Regions from separate parts of the Homo sapiens genome. Here region 2 is linked to region 1. Evidence: fine-mapped expression QTL. A gene starts in region 1. The other region holds a variant in brackets. All regions are shown on one strand. Distances are between the middles of the regions.

Region 1 (9,581 bases):
TAGTCTCAGCTACTAGGGAGGCTGAGGTGGGAGGATCAACTGAGCCCCAGTGGTTGAGGCTGCAGTGAGTTGTAATCACACACCTCCATTCCAGCCTGGGAGACAAAGCGAGCCTTTCTCAAAAAACAAACAAAACACCATCTAACATGAATGTTGGCATTAGTACAGTAAAAAGTTGTAACTAAGGCACTCTAAGTCTCTCTACATACAAATATACCGGTGGAAACGGAAAAAGAAAAAATTCACACCACCTATTGCATAGCATTTGGAAATGATTATTAACTTAGTTCCCACGAATGCCTTTACGAAAGCCAGAAATAGGAAAGGAAGGAGTATAACTGGAAACAAGAACAGGTGTGAAGCTGAGGTGGAAACAAATTAAGAACTTAGGCAAATATTCAAGTTTCTTAAAATCTTCAAAGAGCACTAAAAGAACTCAGACTTCAAATAGAATTACCCTACCCAATGAATTAGTTACAATGACAGCACAGGTCTTATTTTAAATAATGGCAAAATAACTTTTTTGAAGTAAGCTATTACTTATTTTTTAGCTCAACATTTATGTGCCAAATTAAGGAACACTAAATTTACAACCTAAACCAAAGATCAAGCAATCACTTTCATAATAGTCACTTATTTTAGGCCAGGCGCAGTGGCTTACGCCTGTAATCCCAGCACTTTGGGAGGCCAAGGTGGGCAGATCATGAGGTCAGGAGATCGAGACCATCCTGGCTAACACGGTGAAACCCTGTCTCCACTAAAAATACAAAAAAAAAAAATTAGCCGGGCATGGTGGCACACGCCTGTCGTCCCAGTTACTCGGGAGGCTGAGGCAGGAGAATGCTGTGAACCCAGGAAGCAGAGCCTGCAGTGAGCCGAGATCGCGCCACTGCACTCCAGTCTGGGCGACAGAGTGAGACTCTGTCTCAAAAAAATAAAAATAAAAATAAAAGTCACTTATTTTATTCCACTAAAGTAAAAATGAAGTAAATTAATAATCCACAAGTTCACATAAATGCAAACTGGTCAAAGTTAATACTTGCACAAAGGTCTACTTTTTTCTATTTCCTGGTTTACTACTAAAATTAGCCACAACTTAAGTACAAAGGAGCGTTGCTATAAAACCATCTTTCAGAGTCCATGTTGTACGACATTATATACGAGACTGCTTTATGACTAGACTTCTTCAGCAATGTACTGTGGGTAACCAAACACCCTTGGCTAGGATCCTCTTTTATGACAAATTCCAAATTCAAAATCCAAATATTAAAAGCAATCTTCAGCACAGTTGATTGGCTTTTCAAGGCCCTTTTAATCTCAAAATACCAAGCTAAACTGGCATAAAGTTCATCTGTATGTGTATATTTCCACTTGTTTAAACACAACAATATATATGCAATGTGGAATCCTGGACTGGATCCCAGAAGAGAAAATGGACATTAGTGGAAAAGCTGGTGAAACGCAAACAAAGTCTGGTTAGTAATGTCATACCAATGTTCATGTCTTAATTTGGACAAATGTATCATCATTATCCTAACATTAGGGGAAGCTGGATGAAGGGTATGAGATTACTCAGTTCTGTATTTCCAACTTTTCTATAAATTTAAAATTATTCCAAAATACAATTATTTAAAAACACAGCTATAACCTCTCATAATTCCCAGTCATTTGAGTAATAAAAGATTATCTAAGCCCATGAACTCATGTGAATTTCCTTTTCTAAGATGTGCTGAAAAGATGTCTTAAGTTCATATTTGCACTGGAAAAATAAATTTTTAGCAAATTTTCTATTTGCTAAGGCAAATACACACAAGCCAGTCTTACCAATTTTACTCAAAGTGAAAAATCTTGGGTGCAGGTACCAGACATCATAAATATATGGTTTGGGTTTTTTTTTTTTTTTTTTTTTTTTTAGGCAAAACTATTTTCATTTTACTATGATTGGCAAATTATGATGTATTTGATTGATAAATCTCAGATTTATCAGATTGATTCTAGTTCGTCTTCATGTGGCAGAATATGTGTTGTCAGGAGTGATTTGGTAATTCAGAAAAGCAGCTGAAGAAGCATGGAAACTTCCCTACAAGTATATGGCCACAGCTGGCTAAGGTTGGAGACAGTATTCTATCCTTGGGCCTCAGACTCACATATGTATGTACATACACATATTATTCACCCATATTTCCTTCCTTCTCCCCTCCCCCATCTGTAAACTGATATCTAAACTTTACAAATTACAGTTACAAGAAAAGTTTTGTTCCATTTGAAATACAAAAAAGATCAGGAGAAGCAATCTGCTTTTTAATTTTACTTATGCAGTAGTTTTTTAAGATACAGTCAATTTGTTTTGGCACTTTGGAACTAGAGGGATACAGTTCATAAAAAAATCTACCAACTCTCAGCGAAGCTGAAATGAGGTGAACAGAAGGCGTACCAATCCATAAATGTATTTAAAAATAACAAAGCCTAATATAATTTTACATTTTTACATGTTAATCTGCTTATGAAAAAACAAGACATTAAAACTATTCACATCCCCTATAACGAAGCACTAAAATTACAAATTATTTACCAGTAATAGCTTAACATTGGTTTAACTTAAAAAAAAAAAATACCTGGACATACTAAGCATTTGTTGTAGACTATACCAAATACCAAACTTCTGTCTTCAGTGACTATTGAAAGTATCACTCCACAAATCAATTCCTATGATCCACCACACACACACACTCAAATGAGGGTTTTCATTATTTTAATAGGTGAACAAATCTACACAACAGTGATGACCCAAATGTAAAATTCACAATTAACAGTCTAAAAACTGTTCCTATCCTATTGGTATTAACCCCTCATATAACACAGGCGAGCTCCTCCCCTTGCCCAGACACTGAAAACACTACAGAAAGAATCCCACCATATCTTACCTGACTAGCAGTCGTAATAAAATGAAAACATACTTTTGCCAACCAAATTCAGCTATAAGTATTGTACTACTAGTATGCACGTAAATACAATTCCTTACACATACTTTTCTAACACTGTTATATTCAGTTTCAAAATCTAAAGTACTATCTAAGCAACTTGCTGATTTCAAAGGCTGCTAAATGTTTCATTTACCCCCCTTACAAAAAAAAAGTCACTGCAAATTTTAGTAGTCTGCAAAAACTAAAATTCAACGATTTTGAATGGTCAACTAAAAAAGCAGTCTTCACTCCTGCATACAAAAGGGTAATTCAAAGAATAAACCCTCATTTTTTTTAATAATGTATGATTTAAAGCAGTAAGATCCTGTAACGTCCAACAGAAAATGCTCCAGGTTCAAAAATAATAAAAACTAAAGACATTGCCTCTAGTTGATACTATCTATGGCCGATAGGCTGTGCTTGAAAATTTTGTAGTGTTAAGCGAAGGAGTTTTCAGCACTGATATGAATTGCTCAAACATCCATTTTGGAGTCCTCTACCCCCGCCCTCTCAGACTTCATTTTGTGAAGATTTTGCGCGAGGTGCTGCAGTGACAATTTCGAGAAAGCCTGGGCTGGCTTCAGATCCAAACCGGGATGCGAAAGAGCAGGAAAGGGCGCCCTGGAGCCCAGCGGCCCGTGCGGGTCGGGGGAAGCGCGGGCGCCGGGGAGGCCTTTTGGGCAGGCGCGCCACGGGTCCGGGATGGCGGGCGCCCGGCCTCGGCGGGGGCGGGCCGCGCGCGGGACTTACCGCTCCGGCGGCGGCGGGGGCCCCGGCTGCGGCGGCCGCCTCCTCCTCGTCGTCGCCCGGCGATGGCGGCCCTATCTTGCTGCAGGTAGCGGCCAGCAGAGCGAGCGGTGACGGCTGAGTGTCCTACCCCCAATGGGCGGGTTCAGAGAGGGAGACAGGGGGAGGGGGTGGCGGTTAGGGTCGGGCCGCCTTTCGCACAGGAAGTACGACTCGGTCCCCGCCGACTGCGCCCGGGCAAGCGCCAGCCCGCGCTCTCCTCCTCCTCCTCCTCCTCCTCCTGGTCCCGCCGCCAGCCCACGCCTGGCGTCCCCCGCTCCAAGCACCCCGGCTCCCCGGTCCGCGGGCAGGCGGGCGGCGGGCTGCGCGCCGGGCCTCCGCCTTCCGCCCGGAACCCACCCCCGGGAGGGCACGCTGGGGCCCACACTCACACGCGCACAAAAAGGCGGCAGGCGGGCGAGGCGGGGCGGCGCGGGCGGGGTCGGAGCGTTGGCGCCTCGGGCGGGCAGCTCCCGGGGCGGGGGGAGGGGAGTGGAGGGGAGGGGAGAGACGAGGAGGGAGGGGTGAGGCGAGGAGGGAGGGGAGAGGCGAGGGGAGGAGAAAGCGGCGCGAGGGGGGAGCCGGGCCGGGGTTCAGCCGCTCCTCACCTGGGCCGCCGCTGCCGCCGCCACCGCACCGTTTCCGTGCTGTTGCTGCTGCTGCAGATACTCGCCGTGGCCGCCGCCGCCGCCACCGCCGCCGCCGCTATCCACGTCCAAGGCAGCCATTTCCTCTTGTTTCACGGGCTTTTCGGGAGCTGCAGGCACAGCGCGGGGGGGTGGGGGTGGGGAGGAAGGCGGGTGGCGGAGAGGGAGGGGGCCCGCGGGCCGAAGCGAAATTACTCCCAAAGCCCGGACCCAGGCCCCTTCCCCTCCCCCACCCGCCCCCCGGCGGCGGCGGCGGCGGCGGCTCCCTCCTCCCCTCCTGCTGCTGCCCCCGCCCGCCGCTGCCTGTAACCCTCCTCCTCCTCCTCTTTCCCTCCTCCTCCTCCTCCCCGCGCTGCCCCTGCCCCCTCTCCTCTCCTCCCCTTTCCCTTCGCGCCGCTCGCTCTCACTCGCGCTCGCTCCTCTCGCACCGTCAGTCACTCACACACGCCCGCCCGCGCCCGCACACAGGGGGATGCGCTCCCGGCGGACCGGGCCGCCCGCCCCGGGGCCTGGCGGGGAGACGGCGTTGCTGGGGCTTCGGGGGTGGACGGTGGCTGGCGGGGAGGGGAGGGAGGCGCAGGGGAGTGCAGCTTTCTGCCTCTCACAGACACTCGGTCGCACACACGGGGCCGAGACCGGCGGCAGCGGCCCCGGGCTGGCTGTGGTCGGCGGCAGCGGCGGCGGCGGCAGCAGCAAGGGTTGCTCTCTCGGCTTTACGTACCGGTCATAGTGTGTTTAGGGCACCTCAGGCGGGGCTCCCCGCCGCCTTACACATGGTGAGGAGCGAAGGCGGCGGCGGCGGGAGAGGATGCGGGAAGCGGCGGCGGACACGGCCGGAGCGGTCCGGGGATTTTTTTTTCCTATTTTGATTGACTGTGCGGGAAACACAAAAGGTGGAGCCTCCAGCCCAAAAGGGGGGAAGAGGGTGACAGCCCGCCCGGAACTCCCGCCCCTCTTCTTGGCTCTCATTCGCCGCCGTGCTCTTTGTCGGCTGTGCTCATTGGTCCAGGCGCCTGTCCGTCGGTCTGCCAGGCGGCGCGCTTCCTGTTTGCCCCCGGGTGGAAGGGGAGAGACAATGAGCGGCCGTGGCAGCGTAGGTTTTCGAGAGCGGCTACGGCTCGCCGGTTACCCCGCTGTGCCCGCCTCCCTCGCCGGCTGCCGCTGCCAGGCCCGAGGCGCAGGCCTCCTCCACCTTGCAGGCGCTCGGAGCAGGCCTAGCCAAGCTGTAGGGGAGCTGAGCTGGGGAGGAAATTCGTCCCCGGTGACTCCTGCTCCACTGGACGCTTCCTCCATCCCGGCAGCAGTCTTGGCCGGATCTCCCCAGGGCCTCGCGCTCTTGGAGCCGCCGCTTCCCTGCGCTGCCAGGAGGCCACCGCTGCTCAGCCCCGGGGCTGCTGCTGCGGCCGCTGCCGCTACTGAGCAAACCAGACCCGCCCCACGAGCCCGGGGGGAGGGAGCTGGTATTAGGGGAGACACCCCCTCCGAGGCTGGAGGAGGATTTTTCTCTCTCACATCCAGCTTCCTGATTCAGTCACAGCCATCTCGCTCCCAGCCCCCTTAGCCCCAGTTTTCCAACCGGTCTCCCACTTTCACGTACCCTGAAGGCAGGCATTTAAAGCAAAAAAGAAATCTCAAGTCACCTCACATACGGAAGGAGAGTTTTAATTTTGGCCAGTGGCACCAAAACGGGCACTTAAAAGTATATTTCATTTTACTTGTGGTATGTGTATGTATTCAGTGGGGCAGAATTCTGTGTTTTAAAAAATCGGTCACATAACCATTTTGCTGCACAAACGTATTATTCCCGGCCTCTTTATCCTCTTGGTACCAAGTCAGATATCTCCTGAAATAAGCCCATCAACCACTGCCAACGTTTTTTAAAGTCGTGAACCGGTGAACTACCTTTTTTCCCCCATTGGAACATTTTTGTTGTATTTTAAAATCTTGTTTCTCTTACTGGATTAGGTTAACACTCCTTCCTTCTTTGGCATCCTTGGTATCTTGCTGTCATCCTGGGGGAAAATGCTCAGGTTTTAAGTGTGTGTTTTGCCAACTAAGAGACATCTCTCCCTGTTACCTTCAAGTATAGTTGCCAAGAAAGAAGTTAAATTCAAGAGGTGGAAACACTGTCCACAATACCTGTTTTTTAGAAATCTGGCTCAAGATTCAGTTTTCCCATTACTGTGATTATTATATTTTGTGTGATATGTGATGTGCTGGTGGATGAGGTTGTGAAGTCCAAGCACTTTAACCAGATTTTGTGTGTCCTAACTTAATAGGTAATCCATTTGTGAGATACTGAGTTTACATCCCAGTTCCAAAGCACTTAACCGCCTATGCTGACAGGATCAGAAACATTGTATGGTTACTTTGCTCTTAATTGTACAAAGATCAAATTTCCAGGGAATTAACCTAAAAACCACAAACATGCGGAAACGAGACTCAAAATTCTGAGTCCAAGAATAGGGTTCATCTCTTCTAATAGTCCTTGTAGTCTCATATTTAAGTGGAAAAGTCACTTTCAAAGTTGAGTCGTATAACCTATGTACTATTTTACAACAAAAACTTTTAAGGAAATAAAAGTCACAAAATAACCTGATTTGGGGTGGGGAAAATGGAAAAAGAGATGGGTGCCTTGAAGAGCGGGACAGGTGAAAATAAGTGGACTGGGAGGGAGGAAGGGAAGTCACTATTATCACTCTGTTCCTACCCGGATCTCTTGGGTGGAAGGTAGCTCTTTCCCTAGAAAGGATATTTCAGGCATTTTCAGTTTTGTTTTGTTTTTTTTTTCAGGAGTGGGGATATGTTCTACGCTATCGCCATACCCTTTTTGCAAAGTGTTAGTCCAGCCACCTTGAGAGCAAAGTACTTGGCCACAGGAGTTAAATTCGTTTCTTCATTGATACCAATTGGCAAATGATATGAGACATGAATTGTCTTTTTTCTTTCTTTTTTGGGGGGTGGGGACGGCACGTCCGCAGACCATTTTGACAAGCAAAAAAAACACTTCTGAAAAAGAAAAAAATAGCCTAGCTGAGCGTGGTGGCTCACACCTGTAATCCCAGCACTTTGGGAGGCCAAGGCAGGCAGATCACTTGAGGTCAGAAGTTCGAGACCAGCCTGATTGCCATGGTGAAACCCCATCTCTACTTGAAATACAAAAATTAGCCAGGCTTGGTGGCGCACACGTGTAATCCCAGCTACTCAGGAGACTGAGACGGGAGAATCACTTGAACCTGGGAGGTGGAGGTTGCAGTGAGCCGAGATGGCACCACTGCGCTCCAGCAAGACTGAGACTGTCCCAAAAAAAAAAACCTACCTGAACTAACTATACTGCTTTTGATGCGATGCTTTTAAGAGATACATATGGAGGTAGGGTGACAGAGGTTGGTTAATTGGTACAAACATACAGTTAGATAGAAGGAATAAGTTCTAGTGTTCAATAGCACAGTAGGGTGACTATAGTAAATAGCAATATATTTTATATTCCAAAATAACTGGAAGGGAAGATTTGAAATGTTCCCAACACAAGAAATGACAAATGTTCAAGGTGACAGGGGAGAGGGGGCGGAAAAAAAATGTCCAAAGTGATAGATACCCTAAACACTCTGATTTGATCATTACAACACTGTATGCATGTATCAAAATACCACATGTACCCCATAAATATGTACAAATATGTATCCGTTTTTTAAATTTTTTAACAAAAGATGCATATACCAAAAGCATCACTCACTACTTTAGTCAGATTCAGAGAACCCTCTTAGACCACACTTGAGTTATTGTCATGGAATAGCTTTTTAAAATGGCTGGAAATGAAGATAGTCTCTTGAAAGAACACCTTTTCCTACCTATTTCAGTATTGTAGTCAAATCTTGAAATACAAATTTTTTTTTTCAATGGCATGGTCTCGGCTCACTGCAACCTCCGCCTCCCGGCTTCAAGTGATTCTCCTGCCTCAGCCTCCCCAGTAGCTGGGATCACGTAGCGCCCGCCAGCATGCCTGGCTAAGTTTTGTATTTTTAGTAAAGACAGGGTTTCACCATGTTGGCCAGGCTGGTCTTGAACTGCCGACCTTGTGATCCGCCCGCCTCTGCCTCCTAAAGTGCTGGGATTACAGGCATGAGCCCGGCCGAAATACAATTTAATTAAAATACTTATTTTCTTATTAGAAAGCTGCCTCTCAATGGCACCTACTGCTACATTTACATAGTAACCCAAAATTGCAGTTGCTTAGCAGGGAGAGAATCACAGTGCTGGATATTATTTATACTTTTTCTTCCAAAACGATTTGAGGAAGTACTGTGCTGGCCATTGTTTACATCATATTAGGAGATCTGGATGTCACTTTCTTTTCCCATATCCTCGATTTCCTCACTTTTTAAAATGTCATGTGTTTTTGTAAGTTTTCTTAAATCCTTTGGAAATGTGATGACGGTGAAAAATCCCTGAAGGCTTCTATACACCTGTTGGCATGGAATATTTTGCAACCCGTTTCTTCCCTACAAACAGAAGAGACAACTAAATACGGTTTGATCTACATCTGCAAGAGCCTAGCCATTCAGTATTAAAAAGTGATGGCCCTGGTTGACGGTACCACACCTGAAGACCTATGCCCTTTCCTTCACACTCCCTACTTCTGCATTTCTTCCCTCCTGAACGTCTATCAAGTGGACCATATGAAATTGCCAGTATTCAACTGTTTTTTATCTTAAAAGGTGACAATTCTATATCATTCAACCTAAATTAATGTCTCAAGAACATAACCTTTGTTTCTATTATTGTGACCTTACTTTTAACCATCCTAGAGCTCTTTAACCTGTTCACACTGGATTTCAAGGATCTTAAGTTGTTCTACTACATAATCACTATCACACTTCAGAAACATTTTAGTTTACATTAAATACACTTAACCCCCTCATATTTCATCTCTTCCTTTCTCAAAAATAGTAATAAATAACCTCAAGCCATTAAAGTGTGATGTCCTTAAATGAGGAGCAACAACCTTCAGCATGGAGTGTATTCATACTTTATGATTCAATTAGATAATAGAATTTGTTTATTTTCTTTGGTCATATAAACCAGACATAAACAACAACTAATCTCAAAAGAGTCAATGATACCCAAAGCCTAGTTAGAGAAGGTAAGAGAAAGGGGAAAAAAAAAATGATGTGGTTAGGAGAAG
Region 2 (9,581 bases), 75 kb after region 1:
CCACCAAGTCCCGTATGAGCCAGAACACAGCAATGGGGTGCAGGTTGGGGGGTAGGCAAACGATAGATGTAGAAGAAGTGTATCAAAGACTTGCCTTTCAAGTTCTTTGGCTGGAAGGAAAGGAGAGTGAAGGTGATGTCTAGAGAAGGAAGCAGAGTTGAACATTTCTCCCTGAACCGAAAGAACCAGCAGACAGGGGAGGATGAACGAATGAACTAGGCACTGCGGTTACCTAGTGACCCAGCAGAAGACTTTCCAACTGAGTCTTCCTTACAAACCACAGAATGTAGAGCTCCATCCTGAACTCCCTACACCTTGCTTCAGTAGGGCCTTCAGGGTTGACAGTTTTTAGTCAGCCCTGCAGAAAGGAGACAGATAATCAGTTTGCTCCTAAATATCACTGGCTCCATTCATCCTGGAATGGCGATATCAGGCACCAAAGCACAGACTGCTGGGACGTGGGGGACCTGGGAGAACCATAGGCAGCACCTTCTGAAACAGAAGAGTCACACACAAGGATGACTCTGAACATTCCCTCTTTCAACAAAGCAATACGGGCTCATTAAATAACATTTGGAAAACACAGGAAAGTTAATTAAAGAAAATATCCCACTCATAGTCCTGTTATCCAAACACTAGTATTACTCATTTTTTAAGATCTTCTGGGGATTTTCTCTGTGTAGGGTTTTTTTTTTTTTTTTAATCTTAGCTGTAGTCATGTCTACAATTTCATATCCTGCTTTTCCTACTTACTATATTGTGTTTTCTTCTGTCATTACTCACTTTAGTTTATTGTAATGAGTGCATAAAATATCATCATGTGAATTTGTCAAAGTTTATTTAACCATTGCCCTAGAGTTGGACATTTAGATTACTTTCAGTGTTTTGATGTTGTCAATTTTTGTTACTATAAATGATATTGCAATGCGTATGTGCACATAAACCATTTTTTGGCATTTAGGGTTATTTCTTTAAGACAGAGTCTCAGAAGTGAAGTTATCGAATTAACAAGTATGAACGCTTCTCAAGAGTTTTACATTCATACTGCCAAATTCCTCCCCAAAGGGCACTATATTAATGTATACTGTGATTAGCAATATGTAAAAATGTTAGCTTTGTGATGGCTTAAACCACACTGGCTAGTATTACTAAAAAAAAATTGTTTTTGCTAATTTAATAGGTAAAAAGTGAGCTTGATTTTTTAATGTAAACTTTGTAGTGAAGTTTATCATGCGTTCAGAAAAGTACACAAATCACGAGTGAATTTTTACAAAGTGAACACCCCTGAGTAATCAGCACCCAGATTAAGAAACAGAACCTTACCCCTAGAGGCCACTATTGTGGCCCCGTTCCCCCTCCTCCACTCCACCCAAGGGTCATCGTTGTTCTGACTTCTCCCACCAGGGGCTAGTTTTGGAAAGTGGCGTTGCTCTAATTTTCATTTCCTGGATTACTAGTGGATCTAACCGCTTGCCACATCTTAGTTGATGAGCTGTAGTTTCTCTTTTGTAAATTGTCTTTTTAAGTTCTTTGTCTCAGAAACTGTTGATTCTTAAGCTATTTCCCAATGTCGAGTTTGGCTAAAGGCGGAGTGTAGTCATCATGACATTGTTTGAAACTGGAGAAACATGTCGTATGTGTGTCTATGTGTGTACGTTTTTTGCTCTCATGATCTTATCCTGACAATGTAGTAGTCCCCCCATCCAAAGTTCCACTTTCCATAGTTTCAGTTACCCATGATCAGCCTTGGTCTGAAAATATTAAATGGAAACACCAGAAATAAACAATTCCTAAGTTTTCAGTTGTATACTGTTCTGGGTGGCATGATTAAATCCCATACTGCCCCACTCTGTCCTGCCAGGACGTGACTCACCCCTTTGTCCAGCATCTTGGTGCCATAGACGCTCCCTGCCCGTGGTTGCTCCGTAGCCCTCTTGGCAGTATCACTATGCCTGTGTTCCAGTAACTCTTACTTCACTTAATTGTTCTATCTTGTTATTAGTTATTGTTGCTAATCTCTTACTGTGTCTAATTTATTAATTAAGCTTTATCATAAGTATGTATATACAGGAAAAAACGTAGCCTATGTAGGGTTCAGTACTATCTGTAGTTTCAGACAAACACTGAGAGTCTTGGGGTGAATTCCCTCCATGAGGGGGGACAGGTGTACTCCTCTTATTTATGCTTCTCCATTGCAAAGCAAGATGGCATCTCTCTAGGCAACACCTGGAAGCCAGGGTAACTTTTTGGTGACAAAGCTGAGCCTAAATAGTCTCTGCTGTACTTCCAGTGTCTGTGAGAATTACAGAAATAGGTCACTGAACCTTTTTAAAAATAGAACTGACACATTTGGGGAAAGCATTTTTTCTGCTGAGATAGCACACAGTACAAGATGAAATGATCCCTAGAGGGTAGATGAATTTAGACATTTGGTATTAAAAATAAATAAATAGTCTTAATGACTCACAGGGAACATAGCACCTTTCATAAGAAAGGTCTCTAAACATTGTTACCTGAACAGACCACAATAAATTTCTAATATACAAGGTACAAGCCATTGCCAGCCCCTGCCCACCTACACCTGGCAACAGCTTTTGATGGGAAGAGAAGGGCCACATTGGCTGTGGGCAGTTCCCTCAGCAATGCCAGATGTCCTGTCTCCCTGGGTTTGCTTGATCCCCTCTTAATTTCCTACACAGCCCACCAGCTCACCCTTGGACAGGCATATGGCTGCATAAGAGGCAAGAAGGGGTAGGGTTACCACACTGCCTGCGAGCATCTCCACTCCAGCTCTTCCAAGGCCTTGACCGCTTTGTGTTAGGGCAGCCCCAGAATCCTTTACCCAACGCTCCCCATGAGCTGTCTGGGACCCCAGATCTGCCTGTGCGGGGCCCTTTTCCACTTCCTCCTGAGCCATCTTCAGAAAGCTCCCTCTGGCTATTGCCCAGCCCCTCTTCACACCCCCTGCTGCCTTCAGGAGCCTCATGAATCCACAGTGGACCTCAGGTCTTCTTAAGAGATTCCTAAGGAACTCCCTCCCCTTCCATGCTGGGCTCTGCTACTGAGAAGAGCAAGGTCTGCCGGCTGGAAGGCAGGACCTCGGGGTACTGCGGGGAAGATGCTTTGATTTAGTCCAAGAATGGCAGGAGAATACCAAGAGGGATTGGCTGTCCCAGAAGTGGGGCGTGAATGGAAGCAAGGGGTGAAGTAGAGCAGGGGCAGGGCCACTCGCCTTTTAGGAAGCGTGGGCAGCAGGGAGAAAGGTATAGGGCTGTCACTACCCAGGTATCAGAGCAGTGGCTCTGGGAATGTGGGAAATAGGAGGGGACAGAGGGACAGGTATAAGACATTCTTCAGAAGTAGAACCCACTGAAGATTTGGTGACATAGAGTTGGCACCAAGGGAAAGACGAGTCACAGATGCCATGCAGCACCTTCTAACAAGAACTCAGCTCCTTTCATGATACAAGTGTCCATTCCATAGGAGTGTACTGAGTGCTTACTTTGTGGCAGATACTGCTGTAGACTCTAGAAATGACATGTAGCTACTACCCAAAGGGAGTTTTAATTCTGTTGGGAGAAAGGCAGGCAATGCAGACAACAAAGTAAACAAATAAAAAAGATGATTTCCCATGGTGACAGATGCTCTTGGAAAATAATTTGGGCCGGGGGAATTGTGGGATCGGGAGGACTTTTCAGAGAAAATGACATTGGAGCTGGATAAAAAGAAGGGGCCAGTCCAGGAGAAGCCAGGGCAACAATATTCTAGGTAAATAAAAGAGCCTCTGCAAAATGCCCCAAGGTAGCATCAACCTTAGCACACTTGAGGAGCAGAAAGAGGACCACTGTGGCATGACAAAAAGAATTTTGCAAGACTAAATTGTTTTCTGACCTCCTGCAGAGCTGCCGTTGAAGCCTTACTAACTTAGAGTTTCACCTCTGGTTTCTAGACACTACAAGCCCTTCCCGTTTCTCTTTTCTCTTTCTCTCCAGACCAGCTACAGCAAGGAGGGAGATCAGTAGCCTTAAGACCCCATGTAGGACTTAAGAAAGGACTGGAACCAGTTCAGTCCTCCCAGAAGCCAAATGGGGAGGGGGTCCTGAGGCCAGTCTGGCTCCCTTTTTCAAGAATGTGGTTCTTAACCACCTTTGAGCTATGAACTCCTATAGCAATCTGATACAAGCTGGGAAAAATTACACACACACATAATTCTGTACACAACCTCAGAGAAAGCACATTGTAGACCTTCTCCTAAGGTCGCTACTTTGGCAGTTCTTTCAAAACCAGTCCATTTTCTCATTAAGGCTGTGTCCCTTTCACAGAAGAGAGGATGTGTGAAAAAAAAAAACACCTTATAAACAGCAAATCAACCTATTAATACAGCCTATAAATACAAATTCTTGTAAGATATAGAATAGATCGGTCGGGGGTGGTGGCTCACGCCTGTAATCACAGCACTTTGGGAGGCCGAGGTGGGTGGATCACGAGTTCAGGAGGCTGAGACCAGCCTAACCAACATGGTGAAATCCCGTCTCTACTAAAAATAAAAAAATTAGCCGGGCGTGGTGGCGGGTGCCTGTAATCCCAGCTACTGAGGAGGCTGAGGCTGGAAAATCGCTTGAACCCAGGAGGCAGGGGTTGCAGTGAGCCGAGATCATGCCATTGCACTCCAGCCTGGGCGACAGAGTGAGACTCCGTCTCGGAAAAAAAAAAAAAAAAAGAAAAAGAAAAGAAAAAGAATAGATCTTCCATAGAGATGCATCCACATATAAAATATAACCATAATAATGGTGGAAATATATTTACACAGTGTTTTTACTTTGCAGCACA[C/T]ATATATCATTTTATCCCATTGAAATCCTTGGCACATGGTTAGGGAAGACATTGTTCCATTTTATAGATGAGGACACTGAGGAAGAGAGGGCTAGGTGGCATGCCTGCAATGACAGGGCCGGGTGGCAGCAGCACTGGGACAGGAACCAAGGTCTTGTCACTCCGAGGCCCAGGCTTCCCAAGAGGCACACGGCAGGGCAATGCCATCTTGACCTCTCTTTGAAGTCTCTCCATGGCCTTACGCAGGACCTGGAGGCGCTCACGGCAAAGGCAGTGTTTGTGCACGCACACTTGGCCCACATCAGCCTCCTGGTGAGAAACAGAGACACAGAGGAAATGATGTTTTCTAACACAGGGAAAGAAGCACAGGGCCTGCCTTCAGAAATCAAGGTTGCGTAGACAGAGGGGAACTTTTTACTAGGGCTTCCTCTTGGCCAATTAAACCTAATGACTCATTTCCTTTTTCTTCTGAAAACAAAACAGCATTTTCTCCTACCGTCCTGAAGGAGGAGAAACCTGGAAGATCGCCACCTAGTGGCCCAGACCATCAAGATCGTGGCTCCTTCTCCCCCTGCTACCCCGCCCCCACTTCATAGGCCACCTTGCCTATTAGAAAACTGGACCCATACCCCTCACCATGCAGCAAGATAATCTCAAATGGATCAGAAATTCAAACGTAAAAAATGAACACAAACAAGTATTAGAAGACACATCGGTGGACTTCTTTATACCCTGGGTGTGGGAAGTCTGTCTATGATTCAAATCCCAGACGCAAACCAAAGGGCCTCTGGGCGCTTGCTCCTCCAGCTAAGACAGGAGTTGGGGGGGAAAGGGGATGTGTGTGCAATCTTCACCTCCATGTGGCATCTGCCCTACCCCATTAGAGCTAAGTGACTGTCCCCAACCTGGGCTCCTGGGATCAAGCGGAGGGAAACAGATAAAAAACAATTAAACTGACTGGGCCCACTGCCCCCTTTGCCTTCTTGGCAGACAGGAAAAGAGGTCTCAAAGCTGTGCCTCACAAAAAGGAAGACACTTAAGATATCAAGGGGCATGGAGCTGGGCACAGTGGCTCCCACCTGCAATCCCAGCACTTTGGAAGGACAGGCAGGAGGATCCTTTGAGTCCAGGAGTTTGAGACCCGCCTGGACAAAATATTGAGACCCTGTCTCTACAAAAAGTAAAATAAAATAATTAAAAATTAGCCAGGTGCAGCACTGCATCCCTGTAGTCTCAGCTACTCTGAAGGCTGAGGCAGGAGAATCATTTGAGCCAGGAGGTCGAGGCTGCAGTGAGCCAAGATCACACCACTGCACTCCAGCCTGGGCCAGAGTGGAAGACCTTGTCTCAAAAAATAAAATAAAATAAAAAAGTAGTTTTTTTTTCAAATAAAAATTTTAAGAGAGGCATGGAAACCCAGTCCAAGCTCAGCCTGACACCAAAATGAATGCTTTGCTAATGAAAAATAAAATACTCCAACGGCATAAAATAAAGTATTAATAAATTCAACAACTTTAAAAAAACCTGCTGCATGGCAAGAAAATTGGCACATTGTGAGAAATATTTGCAACATTTTCACAGAAACAGGTTAATCTGTAATATTAGGAATGTAATGAACTTTTAAATATTGAGGGGAAAAGGCCAAAACTTGATAGAAAATTAGGCAAAAGGCGTGAACAAACAGTTCATACACACAGATACAAAAATATGTAGATGGACCTTAAAATACAGAAAGATGTTCAACTTCACTCATTATGTTATAAATATATATTAGAACTACATTGAGATACCAATCTTTATAAAATTGACAGAATTTCAGAAGTTTGACCATGCAGTCCATTGGCAAGGCTGTAATGATTCTCATAATCATTGGTGGGAATGCAAAATGATACACCCCTGTGGAGGGAATTTGGAAATATCTAGCAAAACTATATATGCAATTTACCCTTTGACTCAGTAATACTAACTCCAGGAATTTATCCTGAAAGTACACTTCTACAAATATAAAACAACGTATTTATAAGGTTGTTCACGGAGACATTACTTAAACAGCAAAATATTAGAAACAATTTCATTCAATTAGGATAGTAATTGAATAAACTGTGATGCAGTCACACAATGGAGTACTACACAGCTGACAAGTGTTGAGGAATATTTCTCTGAATTAACATGTAGTAATTTCCAGGATATGTTAAGTGAAAAAAATTAAAGTACTAAATAATGGATATATTATGCTACGTTTTTTGTATAAGAAAGAGAGATACAGGAAGAATAAACCAAAAACAAGTAGTTGCCTATAGGGGATTGGCAGGAATGGAGTGGAAGTAATAAGGATGTGAGTTTACCCTTTCGTATTAGTCTGTTCTCACGCTGCTAATAAAGACATACCCGAGACTGAGTAATTTGTAAAGGAAAGCGGGTTAATTGATTCATAATTCAGCATGGCTGGGGATGCCTCAGGAAACTTACAATCATGGTGGGAGGGGAAGAAAACACGTCCTTCTTCACATGGTGGCAGGAAGAAGTGCCAAGCAGAAGGGGGAAAAGCCCCTTATAAAACCATCAATCTCGTGAGAACTCACTCACTATCACGAGAACAGCAGCATGGGGGTAACCACCGCCATGATTCAATTACCTCCCATCAGGTCCCTCCTACAACTCACAGGGATTGTGCGAACTACAGTTCGAGATGAGATTTGGGTGAGGACACAGCCAAACCATATCAAATTCTGAGTATAGTTTTTGATATATAGTTATATATAACTACATATATAATTTTATATATACATATATATATAGTTTTGACTTTTGAACCTTGTAAAAGTTTTACATATTTAATTTTTTTTTTTTTTGATGGAGTCTCACTCTGTCACCCAGACTGGAGTGCAGTGGCATGATCTCAGCTCACTGCAACCTCCAACTCCCGGGTTCAAGTGAGTCTCCTGTCTCAGCCTCCTGAGTAGCTGGGATTACAGACGTGTGCCATCATAACTGGCTAATTTTTGTATTTTTAGTAGAGATGGGGTTTTGCCATGTTGGCCAAGCTGGTCTCGAACTCTTCACCTCAGGTGATCCACCCACCTCGGCCTCCCAAAGTGCTGGGAATACAAGTGTGAGCCACCACGCCTGGCCCATATTTAAAATTTTTTAAATTTTGAGAGATTTGTCAAAAAGAAAAGCTTAAAATTAAATGCAAATATAAACAAATGAACTTAACTGCATATAAAATTAATAATAGAACCATACAGGAAAAAAAAAAGGTTGAAATGACCTGTGAATACAGTATTCTGACTACCTACCCTTAACTGGATGTATTCTAAGAACAAATAGTATTACAAAGAAGTCTTGAACTTTTCTTAGGCCTGATGTTGGAAATGGGCTTCTGCACTACCCAGAGAGGGGTCCGTTCTGGCTTGTTCTGGATTCCTGTCTTAATTTAAAGGGAAACGTTCACAATGTCCAGAGCCCTTGATGTCCTGCCAATGAAGGAGGAGGATGTCCTCAAGTTCCTTGCAGCAGGAACCCACTTAGGTGACACTAATTTTGACTTCCAAATGGAACAGTACATCTATAAAATGAAAAGTGATGGCATCTACATCCTAAATCAGAAGAAGACCTGGGAGAAGTTGCTGCTGGCAGCTTGTGCCATTGTTGCCATTGAAAACCCTGCTGATGTCAGTGTCATATCCTCCAGGAAAACTGGCCAGAAAGCCACGCCGTTGTTTGCTGCTGTCACTGGAGCCACTCTTGTTGCTGGCTGCTTTACTCCTAGAACATTCTCTAACCAGATCTCAGCAGCCTTCCGGGAGCCACAGCTTCTGGTGGTTACTGATCCCAGGGCTGACCACCAGCCCCTCACAGAGGCATCTTACATTAACCTACCTACCATTGCTCTGTGTCACAGATTCTCCTCTGCACTATGTGGGCCTTGCCATCCAATGCAACAACAAGGGAGCTCACTCAGGGGGTTTGACATGGTAGATGCTAGCCTGGAAAGTCTTGTACATGCCTGGCACCATCTGTGAATGGGAGGTCATGTCTGATCTCTGCTTCCACAGAGATCCTGAAGAGATTGTAAAGAAGAGCAGGCTGCTGCTAGAAAGGCTGTGACCAAGAGGAATTTCAGGATGAATGGACTGCTGCAGCTCCTGAGTCCACTGCTACTCAGCCTGAGGGCGCAGACTGGTCTAAAGGTGGCAGATGCCCTCTGTGCCTATTCAGCAGCTCCCTACTGAAGACTGGAGCGCTCTGCTTGCCACGGAAGACTAGTCTGCAGCTCCCACTGCTCAGCCACTAAACGTGTAGGAGCAACCACTGAATGGGCTTAAGCTGTTTATCCACAGGCTTTTAAGCACCATGAAAAGAAGGCTGACAGAAATAAACACCAATTTATTTTAAAAAGGAAATGGTAGGCCGGGCCCCGTGGCTCACACCTGAAATCCCAGCACTTTGGGAGGCTGAGGCAGGTGGATCACCTGAAGTTGGGGTTCAAGACCAGCCTGATCAACATGGAGAAACCCATCTCTACTAAAAATACAAAATTAGCTGGACGTTGTGGCGCATGCCTGTAATCAAAGCTACTCGGGAGGCTGAGGCAGAAGAATCACTTGAACCCAGGAGAAGGAGGTTGTGGTGGGCCGAGATTGTGCAATTGCACTCCAGCCTGGGCAACAAGAGTGAAACTCCGTCTCAAAAAAAAAAAAAAAAAAAAAAGGAAATGGTATTGGAGCAGTCAGTCATTCTGAAAGTAT

Which allele goes with the higher level. Positions count from the first base shown, and alleles are read on the strand shown. Sizes are in standard deviations (SD) of each study's normalised expression.
For the expression in monocytes of the gene that starts at base 5,326 in region 1, allele C in region 2 goes with a higher level than allele T (large effect, 1.6 SD a copy in Fairfax 2014).

What was found. PIP is the estimated chance that this variant, and not a neighbour inherited with it, causes the effect.
Region 2: its variant is fine-mapped to the expression of SP3 in monocytes (Fairfax 2014, PIP 0.95).

What each region holds. Positions count from the first base shown.
Region 1 is chr2:173,960,048-173,969,628 of GRCh38, forward strand. SP3 (Sp3 transcription factor) reads right to left here and starts at 5,326. Exons shown (of 7, transcript NM_003111.5): 1 at 5,118-5,326; 2 at 4,358-4,506; 3 at 3,714-3,836. The coding sequence starts at 5,124. RefSeq lists enhancers at 3,017-3,840, 3,841-4,663 and silencers at 3,524-3,773, 3,904-4,393, 4,724-5,003, 5,504-5,573.
Region 2 is chr2:174,034,723-174,044,303 of GRCh38, forward strand. It overlaps the pseudogene RPSAP24. Among named protein-coding and RNA genes, the nearest start is that of LINC01960, 14 kb to the left of the region's middle. RefSeq lists enhancers at 2,442-2,942, 2,943-3,443, 5,199-5,493 and a silencer at 5,095-5,495. The variant C/T (reference allele first, on the strand shown) is at 4,831.